Homo sapiens: one gene and its partner. The protein of the gene in region 2 interacts with the protein of the main gene of each other region in a pairwise test. Each region holds a gene or a part of one and is shown on either strand. Other genes may lie near its edges.

Region 1 (6,999 bases), on a different chromosome or scaffold from region 2:
CATGTCTCATGGTCACTAAAAGAAGATTGGGAATAGGGTTGTTGAGTTTGCTTCATGGATGTGCATGTTATGGATCGATCCATGAACCAGTCGGATTAATCTGTGCTTCACTTGCTCAATTGGACATTTATTGTCTATAGGACCTGATTTATCAGCTCTTGGCTTTGAGGGCCAATCTTGGGTAAAACTCAGAAGAGTGGATTATGGAAGAGTAAAGAATATAACATGTTCTCATGAACAGATGGACTAGGAATCTGAAAACCTGGGATCTGCCTAGGATTATGGGCAGTTGAGTTCATGTTACTGGTCCTTAATTGTTGTTTTCGTTATTTGAGGAAACTGGACTAGAGGGTGTCTAACTATTACTCTGTCTCTATGTTCAGTGATAGTAGATTTATTGGGATTGAGTTGTGACATCCAGCTTTCTGCCTTCCTCCTGTCATGAGAATAGTCAGTGCATGATCTGTGGAGCAGGAGGTGTGCTTTATAGCAGAGATAATTGGAGATAAGAAGGGAAAGGATTGTGGCAGTGGTCACACTTTGGGAATGTTGATCAGAAACACTCAAACTCAGATCTTCTAAATCCAGAAACCATGTGTTCCCCATTATGTGATACTCACCTTTATTATTCTTATTATTCTTTTTTTCCTTTTTGATACCCCTCCTTTTCCTCTCCTCTCCCTTCCCTTTTCATCTCTTCCCTTTTCTCCCTTCTCTTCCTTTTTCTCCACTGCCCTCTCTTCCTGCTTCTCTTTCCTCTTATTCCTCCTCCTCTTCATAAATACCCTTTATAGTATTTGAAACAAGAGTTTTGACTATAATTCTATGACCTATAGTTAATATTTTTTAAAAATAAGGCTTTTTCCTCCCTTCATATAGGAGTTCATTATAGAAAGCTTGAAAGGTAGAGGAAGGCGGAGCAGCAAGCCTGCACTGAGCACTGTAAAGTGCTGGGCCTTGCTCTAAGTGCTTCCCATGAAGCTTCTCATTTAGTCTTCATGGCAGATATTCTTTGTTTTTTTCTTTTCTTTTTTTTTTTGGATGGAGTCTCGCTCTGTTTCCATGCTGGCGTGCAGTGGCATCATCTCGGCTCACTGCAACCTCTGCTTCCTGAGTTCAAGTGATTCTCCTGCCTCAGCCTCCCGAGTAGCTGGGATGACAGGCATGCGCCACCACGCCCAGACAATTTTTGTATTTTTAGTAGAGACGGGGTTTCACCACGTTGGCCAAGATGGTCTCGATCTCTTGACCTCCTGATCCTCCCGCCTCGGCCTCCCAAAGTGCTGGGATTACAGGTGTGAGCCACCGCGCCCAGCCGGCAGATACTCTTATGGTTCCATTTGAAAGGTGAGGAAACTGAGGCATAGACAGGGTAAGCCCAAGGCAGAGAAGCAGGGCATGAGCCCCAGAGCTCATGCTCTTGTCATTGAGTTTCTCTGCTTCTCCTTGTTACTGGTGTAGAAGGGAGAAAATAATTTTCTGTTTCCAAAATGTTTTTATTATCAGGCCAAATTGGAAACACAGAGTCTGAGCTGAAGAAACTTGCTGAAGAAAACCCAGATTTACAAGAAGCATACATTGCAAAACAGAAACGACTTAAAGTAAGCCAATCAGCTGTCCTCAGTTGACATACACTGCACGGAGTAAATGTTCTACTTTTTGTAAAGTACCACTATTTCTAGAATATCTTCTTTTAAATATTGCAGTTCACCAGTACACATGTTACCTTTGGCTTATGTTCTCCTTTTAGAAAGAATTTTTTATTAGACTTGATATTGAAACTTGATGACAAGTGCTTAACAAGCAGATATTGAGCATGCTGGTTGCCAAAAAAGTTATGAAATGCAAAGGAAGTTCATAACATATTCTAGAATCTGTCATTTCAGGTATTCCACCACTGGAAGTCCTCGCTAGACCTACATCCCTCCATGTGTCGCCCTGACTTGCTTTGCCCCCTGAGGAGTGTGCTTTATGGTCAGCCTTTCTCCTTCTGTTGATTCCTTCCCCGGGCCCAGCAACTATTGCAAGCTTCTCTCATATTAAAAGTGTAGAAAACAGCAGCACTCCCAACCCTCCCCAACTTCCCACCTTCCTTTATCCTATCGTAGCTAAACGAGCTCCTCAGAAGAAACACCTGCACTCACAGTCACTTGACTGACTCTCCACTCGCCGTTTAACTCCTTCACTCGGACTTCTTACTCATCCCTGACCCTTCAGCTACTCTTTCAATTACGGCTGCTAGAATTCTTTTCCTGAGTTGGGCTTGGCAGATGGCTCTTCGTGTCCCTCCCATTCTTTGCCTTCTGTGGTCATCTGGCCTCATAGGAGCTGCCAGTGAGTGGTGGGTCTGCTCCTGGGTCATTTTCACAGCTGGGATATTTCCCTTCAACTTAGCTCTCTCTCTCTCTTTTTTTTTTTTTTTTTTTTGCTGAGTTTTTCTATTTCTTCTCGTTGTCTAAAATAGGCTGAACTCTGTAAGAGTTTGTATCTGCTTTACCTAGATTTATTTTTTTTAAAGGTGCAAATAATATGTTTGGTTTCTTTTTTTGGTGGTTAATTAGTCAAAGCTGCTTGATCATGACAATGTCAAGTATTTGAAGAAAATTCTTGATGAGTTGGAGAAAGTCTTGGATCAGGTTGAAACTGAATTGCAAAGAAGAAATGAAGAAACCCCAGGTAGGTTCTCATTTATATTCTTTCTCTCTTTTCAACATCAGTATTATTCATGGGAACATTCTTAGGTCTCACCAAAAACGTTCTGTAATCTGCTTTTCATTGTTGTTATTCACAGGCAGTTTTAATTATGATAGCAATAATGATATTGCACCCAGAAAAACCCAGGTGTCTAATTGTAACTCAATCTGCATCTACGTGAAGGATTTTTCTGCATAATTTAAATTATGCTTGGGAGATTTTTACCTGTTTTACAAATTTGTAATTACAGTAGTTAGTTTGGTTGAATAACTTGAGTAATTGCTTGAATATTCCCTCTAGTTTTTTCCTTAGGCAGGGAGACAGCCTCCAATCTAAAGTGTAATAAGGACCAGCACGTGGGCATCTGTAGACTGGCTGGTAAGCATGCCAGTGAACTGGCTTCAGGGTTAAGCCATAGGTGTATACACATGGGCCATTTATGCTACTCCGACTAGAGTTGAAGACTATGTTACCTGTCACAAAAGCTCTTCTGCTTTAAATGACTAAGAGCAGTAGCCACTGAGTGATGTTTCAGACTCAGCTTTATGGATTTTTCTAAAGCAGAACTGTTTTTATAAACCAGAAGGAAGTTTCTTTTAACTAGCTTGGAGGCTCCCAACCCCTTAGTGTCCTTTACAAAGTGATAAGCTCAAGTGGCTGCAATCTTACATAGGGACCTGGATGGCTGACAGACGTCAAGCAAGTCTCCTTTGGCCTAGGATACGTTTGCATGGACTTTTTTTTTAAAGCATGAAATTATTCTCTGAGTGTGGCTGTCAAGAAAATAAATATATAATGTCCTTCATCTTTTGCTATACTCACACTCACCCTTAAGGGTGAGACCACTGATACCAGCTGGAGTCTGTCTGTAGAGTGCTTGCCTCTAATTCTCTATGTCCCTTTCTCTAATTAGAAGAGGGCCAGCAACCTTGGCTCTGCGGTGAATCCTTCACCCTGGCAGACGTCTCACTCGCTGTCACATTGCATCGACTGAAGTTCCTGGGGTTTGCAAGGAGAAACTGGGGAAACGGAAAGCGACCAAACTTGGAAACCTATTACGAGCGTGTCTTGAAGAGAAAAACATTTAACAAGGTTTTAGGACATGTCAACAATATATTAATCTCTGCAGTGCTGCCAACAGCATTCCGGGTGGCCAAGAAAAGGGCCCCAAAAGTTCTTGGCACGACCCTTGTGGTTGGTTTGCTTGCAGGAGTGGGATATTTTGCTTTTATGCTTTTCAGAAAGAGGCTTGGCAGCATGATATTAGCATTTAGACCCAGACCAAATTATTTCTAGGTTTGTTGGGATCTTGTCGTGGCAGCTCATCCAAGCATTTAGCTAGACCCTGTGATTGCCCGTGGCTCTCTGAGTCTGTCTTATTGAGTAGTTAGCAGTATTTTTTCCTAAAATTCAGAAGTCATCTTTGTTACACAACACAGGGGTTCAGGTAGCAATAGGACACAAAATTGCTTTATTCTACAACTGCCAGCTCCAGGCAGAAATAGGAAGGCAAAGAGATAAGAGAAGGAAAAATGAGAGAATGAAGTCTGTATAGGGTAGAGCAATAGAAAGTAAGCTTCGGGTGCCTCCAACGTTCATGGCTGCCTGTCTCATTGGTAAACCTCACATTTAGTTACTTGTGGCTACTGCCCACACATACACTTCTGTAATTGAGAACTCTTAGGAGAGGACTAGGGAATCACTGGGGATAGTGGGCTGGAGAGAACCCCAGGCTTTATATGTATACTTTGACCTCAGTGTTAATTTTAAATGCTTATGAATCACACACATTGCTTTAGTAAGATTAAGTGCTTATATACTAGAAATTTGATGCTCATTGGAACACATCTGCCTAGCATTTCTGTAAAAGTCTTAAGTGATATTAAGATGATTCCTTACCATTTCAGATGGTCCGCAATTTGAATTACCAAGTGGTAATGGTTCCTTACTGTTTTAGATGGTGCCTGTGAGATACCATTCCTCTGGATGGTCATGTCCAGTCAGTGGGAGGTAGAAAGGGTGGCATCTGTAGCCCTCTTCATACACATAAGTGGCATTTAGGTGAATGTCCCAGCTAATCACTAGCATGTCTAGGTATTGGCTGGGTAGTGGGTATTTTGATGATCTGGGAGCACCAAATATGTTCATTCTTCGTTTGGGGAGGCTGGTCTGTAAACACAAAAATTGTTGTCCAGATCTTTCATCTGTTTATGATCATCAACAAAGACTTGTTAGAAAGGTCTAGTCTTAGCACTTGGCAGTTAATCTAGGGAAGATGAATTAAATGGGTAGATAGTGATGCATACCTGTATTCACTGATGTATGTTTAAGGGATTTGGGGGGGATACCTCAGTTCATGTGGAAGGGACAGTCTCGGTGTGTCCCATGAATAACCTTGGAACTGCAACAAATGGTTTGTGCTCAGAAAAAGTCTTTCATGGTGACAGGAAGACAGTTTCCCTGGAGCTGGCCATGAAGGCCTTAGAAGCCATTTCTGGTGTCTGGTGGGTAGCAGGCATAGAGATGATGTGCCGAGGTCCCAGTGAACAACAGTAGCCAAAGAATGTACTAACTTTATCATTAATAGGAAAGTCATACCTAGGAAACAATGACTTTTTGATGGCAAAATGATTTTTTAATTCTATTTTGATGCTGTAATTCCATTTCATGACCTAGTTGTATTAGAAAACCTTGATGAACTATATGTTCCCGATTTACAAAAAAATTAATAAAACCTCCAGAGTAAACTCAGTCAAACAATAATTGAGTAGCAGCTTTTATAACATTTAAAATTTGCACATGAGTGTGTTGTCATATGGAGTGTCTGAATCTGTTGCTGGGACATACCAATCCATGTATTCATTAGAGCCATAGAAGTTATTATTCATTAGTTCATAGTGTTTGAGTTCTTTATGTCACTCTGTTAGAAACAAGAACTGAGTCGTGAAGAAATAAGAATTGGATTTTTATAAAAACCTCTGAAGGATATTTACCTATGAAAAAGTTGTTAAGAATAAAAATTAGAAGTCCATGGTTAACTTTTCCTTCAATTTATATTATTCCTGAATCATAGGGAATCTTTCTAGAATGTGTTTATAATTTCCTTGTACAGTTTCTTTGGAAATACGTTAAAGATAGTGGCAATTTCATATATTTCATGGATACTTGAGTTTGTGCTTTTAAGGTGTTTGTTTAGGGATACAATGACCACTAGATGTCGCTGTTTATCCAGTAGACTAAGATTGAGTGTTCTTTTTGTTCAGCAACTCTTCTAAAATGTTTCAAGCAAAGATAGTAATGACCTCAGTTTCTGAAATAAGGGCATCTTCATCAGATTATTCTTCTGTTTTAAAAAAAAGCTTGAGGCAAATGTGAGTGATTTCCAGTGCTTTGAAAGGGATTACAGTATCACACAATGTCAAGCTAGAGTTAAACACAGTATTAGCTAAATAGGCACTTATGTGTATTTTCTTTTTCATGATTATCGGTGACTGGTCAGTGTACTCATCAATTTCCAAAATTTGTATAAATATCACAATTAGAAAAATGCCTGAGGTACTAAAGTTATGTTGGCTTTTTGTGTCTTAACACACATAAATACTATTGTTATTGCAGCAGATGCCTTTTGAATCCATTTTCCATAATTGCGGATAGTCATAAATTGCTTGCTCAATTTTTAGTAATTATTGCTGTTGACACCAGCGTTGTAGATTTTTGGTGTTGTTGAATGCAGTAGAGAGACCAAGACACTATTCTGTAAGATCAATAAAAGTAATTGGAAAATAAATATGAACCCTAAAACAAAGTACTCACTTTGTAATCTTTTTTGGAAAACAGATATATTTTTTTCATTTAAAATCAAAGCATCATGTGGTAGTTAAAAGGGTAAAATAAGCAGAGGTTAGGTATTCAAGATACTTAGCTATAGGATGCCATATTTTCGTTATAACAAAATTGCTGACTCTTGCTTCATTTAAATATGCACGGTTAAAATGAATAGCGGCCTAAAGAATAACACTGATCTCTCAAAAAAAAAAAAAAAGAATAACATTGATGCTGCTCATTAATATAGCTCTGTTGCAGCCAGCCACCTACCATGGGAGAGCATGAAAATGATGAACACTGAGTACTTATCTTTGCAAAATAGTTTTCTTACATGTTTACTGGGTTTCAAGTATTACTCATATTTATGTATATTTTTGACATAGCTAATTCTCTTTTATTGAGTATGGATTATTCATATTGAAATTACCTTCTACATTTCTAGCTTAGTAAGCTTAGCCATTCTAATCAAGTAGAAATTGA
Region 2 (7,748 bases):
TGTTGACTATTTTCCTCCATGATCACAACTGTAAAGGGAATTGAGAAGGATTCCCGTTCTTGGGACCGAATTGTTTTAGCCACCCCCCGCCTTCTCTTGTATTTCAGAGGTATGGAGTCTATCTACGCTCTAGACCCTGTCCTGGGAGTTTCTGTCTTTTAAGGAAAAGCCTTAGAGATGACTCATTTTAACAGTCTTCAGTTTAACAGCCACCATCTTGGCCTCTGCCTAGGGCAACTTGAAATAACTATCTGCAGATGAGGAGGACTAATGGAGTGGCCTTTTGATGCAAGATGGTGTCCTAGTAGATAGCTCTTTAATTAGGGTGACCTGCTTTAGAGCTGTCACCTAGGTATAATTATTAATAGCACCCATACTCACACTCAGAATTGTCCCATTTTGATAAGAAATGATATGGTCACCCAATTAAAATGGGGTTAATTCTTCCCTTCCTCTGGCAGGAACAGCACAGCAGGAGGAGTTTGATGTAGACTCAGGAGACAGTCTATTATCAGTTTTTTACTTATGCCTTTGCTGTCACTGTGTAAGAGGCAGAGGATTTTAGTTTTCTAACGTGGCATGGCTCAATATATCTGACTCCAGACCATTTGGGTTTGCTGGCTACTGGTAGAAGGGGAATCTTTTAATCACACTGTAATTTTTTCCTCTCTGCTACTACATAGGCCAGTTTCAACATTAGCATGGCTTTTTCTTTGGAACATTTATAAAAACTATAAGTAGACCAAACTCTCTAAAACCCTGACATTTGTCAATCAAGACCTCTCAAACTCCACCCTGGAAATGCTGGGGTCTGAGACCTCTCACTCAGTTTCCTGGCTACCATATCACAAGAATTTCCAGTTCTCTAGCCTGGCACAGAGGGATCTTTCCTACTTTCACCATTTCTCAACTCAGCCAATTTTACATTTAAGGATCTGCACTACAGCATCCCACTTCCAGCTATATAGAACTCTTTTGGCTGCAAGAGATAGAACTTAACCCAAAATAGCTTAAGCCCAGAAGGGAATGTTTTGGCTCATGTAACTAAAAAGTCTAAGGGTACCTTGGCTTCAGGCATGATCAAACAAGTCATAAAAATTTGCTTATGCATACATCCCTTCCCACACCCCTTTTCTCAGCTTTGTTTCCTTTAATAGCTTATCCCTCATACAACACTGAATTGGCTAATTGGCGGGTCTTGATCACTACCTGCCAATGAAGTGGAGGTGAAGATGGGCTCTGCCCTTCTCTAAACCACAAGACCTAAGGGTGGAAATGGGGTTTTTTCTCAAAGGTGCTGTTACCAAAAAAAGGGAAAGGGATGCTTGCTAGGTTAAGAAAAACAACAGAGGTCCATCCATTTTATACTTGAAAGCTTAAAAAAATGTAAGCAAATCTGTCCAGACTCAACTCTCTGAAAGATGAGGATGAGAATCATTATTTACTTTGCCTCAAAGTGGTGAAGAAGAAAAAGAAAAGGGCAAGGGTAAAATTTTTTTTAGTTTAAAGATGAAATGAAAATCCACAGGCTTGAAAGTTTGGACTTTCCTGAAGTTGTGGTGTGCCTTTCCAACCTATTGTCAACTTGGAAAAGACTTAATCTTCAACAGTGGAGGAAGCCTCCATTCTCTCCTTTCATTCACTTGTCTGTCACCTTCCCCTGAGGGCCTCAAGGGCAGGAGAGAGCATATGACAAGGAGGAAAGAAATGCCATTTCCTTCTGGTCTCAGACTCTGCGTATCTTAGCTGGGAATATGCAGTTTGGTCATTTCAATCTCAACATTTTCAACACTAAGTTGCAGGAATTAGTTAATTCAACAAGTATTTGTTGAATAAGAATCCCTTATCCTCTTTCGTTCCTCTTTGTTACCCTTTGTTTCTCTCCAAGACTTTTCTCATCAGCATTTAAACATCCTCAAGGCTCTCTCATCTTAAAAACCGAACAAATAAAACCCCTACAAACAGAAGAATGTCCTTTGATCCGACTTCCTTCTCAGCTACCACCCTGTTCAGAACCAAATTTCACATACTACATGTCTTCTTTACCGTCTGTATTTCCTCCCTCCCAAGCCTTCCTCTGGCCACTCCTGTCCACTCCTGCCACTCACTGGAACAGAAGGCTTATGGAAAGAGCCCCACTTTTACAGAACACGAACCCCAGTATAAGGCAGCATTATAGCCCTTAAACACTGTGAAGTAATTTTGTGACATCTGTCTTTTCAACTGGAGTGTGGGCTTCTTGGGGGTAAGACATAGCTGGTAGTTACTCAGTAAAATATCTTACTGTTGAATGTTACATGTCTACTCCAGACATGGAGACTAGCATGAATAAATGTTAAACAAAACTTTGTTGAAGTAACAAAATAACTGAGATTGGAAACAAAAGGATGGGACAGGTTTGGAATGGCGTGAAATAATGAGTGAAAGTTCAATTATTCTGAGCTCAAGTTAGAAGTGTAGGAGAAGGAGGAGAGTGTGTTGTATTAAAAGCAAGGCAAAAAATAGTTTCAATGGGCAATGTTATATGTTAAATGCTACAAGCAAGTATATCATGTTTTTCAGACTGAACACTATTAGAGGCTACTTGATTTGCAAAACAATAATCAATTCTTTGGGGTGGAGATGGGGAGATTAGTTTCACTGGAATGTTACCAGGTTGAGAATATGAAGGAGCAGTAATTTGTAGGGTCCAGAAAATGCAAGGATCACAGCACAATTAATTTAGGTGGACAGTCAACAGAGTGGGCATACAGCAGGACCTTTAGGGTGGGCATACAACAGGAACTTTTGGGAGGTGAACAGTCCTATCTGCATGCTTCTCATCAATTCTACATTTTAATCCAGGCCATCTTATCCGTGAGGTTAAGGATCTCTAGAGAAAGAGAACTCTAGCATAAACTTTACTTAAATGTAAGCTAAACCCTTCACCCAAATGTTTTAATCATATGGATTTAAAATGTGAAATGACAAGTGGAAGTGACACGTAATTATGACCTTATTTTTTGAAACAGAGTCTCAATCTGTCACCCAGGCTGGAGTGCAATCACGGTTCACTGCAGCCTCAAACTCCCAGTCTCAAACGACCCTTCCACTTAAACGACCGAGTAGCTGGGACTACAGGTACGCGCCACCACACCCGCTATTTATTTTATTTTACTTTTCGTAGAAACAGGGTCTCACTGTGTTGCCCAGGCTGGTCTTGAACTCCTGGGCTCAAGTGACCCTCCCACTTCGGCCTCCCAAAGTGCTGTGATTACAGGCATGAGCCACCAAGCCCAGAGACTTTTCTTTCTTTCTTTCTTTTTTTTTTTTGAGACGGAGTCTCACTTTGTTGCCCAGGCTGGAGTGCACTGACATGATCTCAGCTCACTGCAAGGTCTGCCTCCCAGGTTCATTCCAGTCTCCTGCCTCAGCCTCCCGAGTAGCTGGGACTACAGGTGCCCGCCACCACGCCCGGCTAATTTTTGGTGTTTTTTTTTTTAGTAGAGACGGGGTTTCACCGTATTAGCCAGGATGGTCTCCATCTCCTGACCTCGTAGTACGCCCGCCTCGGCCTCCCAAAGTGCTGGGATTACAGGCGTGAGCCACCGCGCCCGGCCTCCCAGAGACTTTTCTATCTGATTACTTTTCAAACACATTCTAGAGCATCCTAGAACTTGTCCTTTCCTAGTTCAGTTTATTACTTTCTGCTCATGCTCCAGGAGAGAATATAGCTTTTAGTCATTTAGTCTCTATGTGGTCCTTCCTTGATTTTCTAAGGGTCCTGAGTCTGTGGTCCCAGAAATAGACAAAAACATGTGCAGGGCATCATAGACTCTTGCTAGGCTGGAAGTAGAGTTCCTCTCTTGTAGCCAATGTCCTCTTCTCCTCACCCTTCCACTCCCGAAATACACACACTCAATATACAGTGGCCAGCACATCTGTTTTATGGGACCAAGAAGCTGAATCCTAAAGGTTAATGAAGGAAAGATACGCAGAAAGTCCAGCACTTTCCTAATTCAGCAGCACACAGGTTTTCACGTCTAATATTTAATTTACGTAATTTATTTTCAATCTCAATTTAATTGCTTTTCTTGAAAAGATGTTTGGGACAAGGTCAACAATGAGGGAGGAATGTCACCGGGTCGGGATCTGGAAACAATCAGCTCTGTATGGTTTTAAAGATGAAGCGCCAAGATCTTAAGGAACCTGAATTCCTGGTGAGCAATCAAGTTCTTTAATCGGCCCCCAGCAGGATGTCAACGGCGTAAAAGACAAAAAGAAAATCTATTTTAAAAGATAGATTTTGTGTTTTTAGATTAATTTTTAAAAAGCGAACCCACCACAAACTTCCCAGTTTTTAAAGAAAAGGCCTCTCCCACCGCAGAGCCCTCCCGAACCATGGGACAGCTCAGCGGCAGCGTCCCACCGGCTGCCCGCAACCGGTGCCGCGAGCTCGGAGTGCAGCGCTGGGATCTCGCGTGCTCCGGGACAGCGGGCTCCTTGAGCGCCGCGGGGCGGGGCGTGGGGCAAGACCCGCCGGCCGCTCCCTTCCCCACAGCGCTTAGAGAAGCAGCGAGCGCCTTTCCTCCTGTCCCGGAGTCCTAGCCTGGCCCGAGCTACCTCCAGGGCGCCCGCTGCTGCGGTGGCAGGAAGTCCCCGGGAACTACAAATCGAGGCATGCTGGGAACATTCTCCCGCTCCTCCCAGGAAATGTCCTTTGTCCAGCCCTACAGGAAGCCCCAGTGAGGAGTCAGCCGGGCAGCCAGCCAGCGAGCCAGCCAGCCAGCCAGCCAGCCAGCCAGCCAACCAGCCAGCCAGCGGGCCACCCAGCGGCCGCTGCAGCCGCCGCCGCCGCACAAGGGCAGACGCGCTGCGGTGCGGGGCTCGGGCCGGGGCGCTCGGTGCCCTAGCTCCTCGCCGCGCCAGCCGCCTCGCAGGTAGGAGCGTGGCTGTGGCTGGGCTCAACCGCCTCCCGGGGATGGGGCTGATCGGGACCAGACCCGACCGCTGCGGGGATGGGGTGTGTGTTCGAGTGCGGTGGCGGAACGGCTGGGCGAAGTTGTGCCTCGTAAAGTGGACCGTTGTCCGCTCCCCTGGGGCGCAGGGCCCCGGGCTTATGGGGTGCTCTCGCGCCCCCAAAGCCAGGACTGAGCTCCCTCAGGGGTATGTGGCGAGGGGCGGGGAGGAGGAGGCTGAGACTTGAGGGAGGAGACAGCGATGCAAGAGGGAATAGGACCGTCCCGCCGACCACCGAAGGGGGCATCAGAGACCCTCGGAGAAACCAAGCCCAGGGAGGAGCTTGGAAGGCAAGGAGAAGGTGAAGGGCTTTGTGTGCAGCTGTGGACCTTGACGGACTGCGCTCCCCTTGCCTTGTCTGTTCGTGCCTCCAGCCCCACTGGGGCTAAGGGAGGGTGGGGGGCTCCGAGAAGGGCAGGAGAGAGGCGGCAGGTCATCTTGGGTCCTAGTGAATGAAATGTGTGCCTCCCTTTTCCTCTCTTCTCCATTCTAGCCCACTCAAATGAGCGGCTTTGGGGCTGCCATCAGACCGGGCAAATGACACAATAAGGACGGGTGGGTGGAGAGATGGGCAGCAGCTCGCAGCCCAAGAGGGGTGGCCGTCTAGCCCCGGGAGGCATTCCAACCACACGTGTCCATGTAGGTAGGTGGTGGGGTGGTGGGCAAAGCTGGAACCTGCACCTCGCGGGGATGCCGAGGCTCAGGATTGTGCATGGAGGCACGGGTGAGGCGCGTGTTGGGAGGAGTGGGTGAGTAAAAGGTTGAGGGGGAGCAGCGACACAGAGGCGCTGAGTGTACCTTATGGCCAATGTACATTATGGCCATGCATCGGGAACTGACTACCACTTCCTCTGGGACTTTCCACGATTTTCCTTTTTCCTAACCGCCTCCCCCAACCGCCCCCGCCCTGCCTCCCCCACAGGAGTGAATCACCCACCCCTTACTACATGAACCCTGGGCTGAATTGAAGTTGGTGATGTATCCCTGTCCTTGTAGTGGGCATGTTTGTCCTTAACCTGTAGGATGACACCAATACTCCGCATCCCCTACTGCGTTACCCTCCTCCCTCAAGACTGAGCGTCTGGTAAATGCGGTTGGATAATGGCTAGCGAGTTAAATGTCTTTGAGTAGCTGTGGTGGATGAGTGGGCAACTTTGAATACAGTCCAAGTGTGACTGTTGTAACTGAACTCAGCATGCCTAAGGGGCCACACTCACTATCTCTCCTTTCTCCCCTCACCTGATTTTTTGTTGATGCCCCCAACTGTTTACCTTCTTCTCTCAACAAGCCAACATGTGGATATTATTTAATGTGGAATACGTTTGAGGAACCAAATGAACCTTTAAGAATGCCACTTATATGGCCAGGCAGGAGTATGCAAGGCTCATGGTCGAAAGAATGATGCTGTAGGACATGGAGAGAGCCCTGAGCCTGATATAAATGGCTTTCGAGGTGAAACAAAACATTTCTTCCTTAGCTTCTTTGGGAGAGATGAGGCATTTGAACTGAGATAAAGAATGGAATCGAGAAAAAAAACCGAGTTGTTTAGGATGAGGCCATGAGGATAATGAAGTGAAGGGAAGAGGCTCTGTGAATTTAGATGATTTCTAGTTAGAACATATTGGCCGTGTGTGTGTGTGTGTGTGTGTGTGTGTGTGTGTGTGTGTGTTGGAAGTGGGGGTTGTTGTTAAGGGAAAGTTGATGTCAAAAGTTCAGCCATGCCCAACAGAGAATAAGATGGCATCCTATTGAACAAGATCATAAATATGAAGTCAGGCTGCCCTTTACATTACACAAAGGAACACATAGATGGCTTTTCAGAACTACTGGGATAGAGGGGTAAATGGATGCTAGTCAGACAGAAGAACCGGCTGGATTGATGCGGCTGGATTGAAGTGGTAAATAGTGACCTCACATCAGCAGCATGACTAAGGCTCATGGAGTTGCATCACATTTCCTCTCCCTCCCCCACCAAAACTCTTTGAATTTCCTCAGAATCTACATTTTTTGCCTAATTACTAGTGTCCTGTGAAGGGAAGGAGAAAGGGTAAAGGTTGGTTGTAAGGATGATAAACTAAGGCAAGAAGGAGCTTGTCTGCTTATGTAGAAAGAAAAAAATAGCTACAGTGTCAGTAAGAGGTCTGGAGCTTGAACCTATGTCAGTACCATATGGGCTTTTCTTTGTATCTAAGATTCTACTTCTTTTTTCTTTTCTTTCACCTGCCCCTTAACAGGTTTCTCAGTACCACACACTATGTAGAGTTAATATAATCAACAAAAGTAACTCCTTACTTTGGGATTTAAAATTCTTCACAATTCAGTGCCTACCTACCCCTCTCCTTTACTGGACCTGTGCCACCCCAATTTACCTACCCATCCTTCGAGCAAATAGCTCCCCAGTCCTTGAAGATGCAACAGACATTCTTCTACCTCCGTGACTGTCCGGTTGAACCCCATGCTTGCTGGACATCCCTGTACCTGTCCCTAATTATTTTTGTACATATCCTGGCCCAGCTGATTAGCTCCCTTACAGAACTCTTCCCAAACTTTACAGTCAAAATTAATCTTACCCCTTGGTAATTTGTATTATTTCAATGACACCTGCTTTAGGTGTTAATATCTAACAAGTGCCCAAAGGATGTTTGATTTGAAAACATGAATAAATCAAAGAAGGAGTGAAAGGATAAAAAAAATCTTAATTATCTTGCCTTTTCTTTAGAAAATGGGATGGAGCCTTTCTCATAGACCTG

What was found.
Region 1: the proteins of ZNF697 (region 2) and GDAP1 interact in binary tests that used the Homo sapiens proteins (3 or more experiments, as listed by UniProt).

What each region holds. Positions count from the first base shown.
Region 1 is NC_000008.11:74,360,378-74,367,376, forward strand, and holds the end of GDAP1 (ganglioside-induced differentiation-associated protein 1), read left to right. Parts: intron 1-1,506; coding exon 1,507-1,601; intron 1,602-1,886; coding exon of another isoform or gene 1,887-1,997; exon of another isoform or gene 1,998-2,442; intron 2,443-2,561; coding exon 2,562-2,676; intron 2,677-3,607; coding exon 3,608-3,990; 3' UTR 3,991-6,499; downstream 6,500-6,999. UniProt on the Homo sapiens protein: Regulates the mitochondrial network by promoting mitochondrial fission.
Region 2 is NC_000001.11:119,645,242-119,652,989, reverse strand, and holds the start of ZNF697 (zinc finger protein 697), read left to right. Parts: upstream 1-4,723; 5' UTR 4,724-5,299; intron 5,300-7,748. UniProt on the Homo sapiens protein: RNA-interacting protein with a high number of miRNA targets. Acts as a damage-induced regulator of muscle remodeling by mediating the interferon gamma response in muscle cells.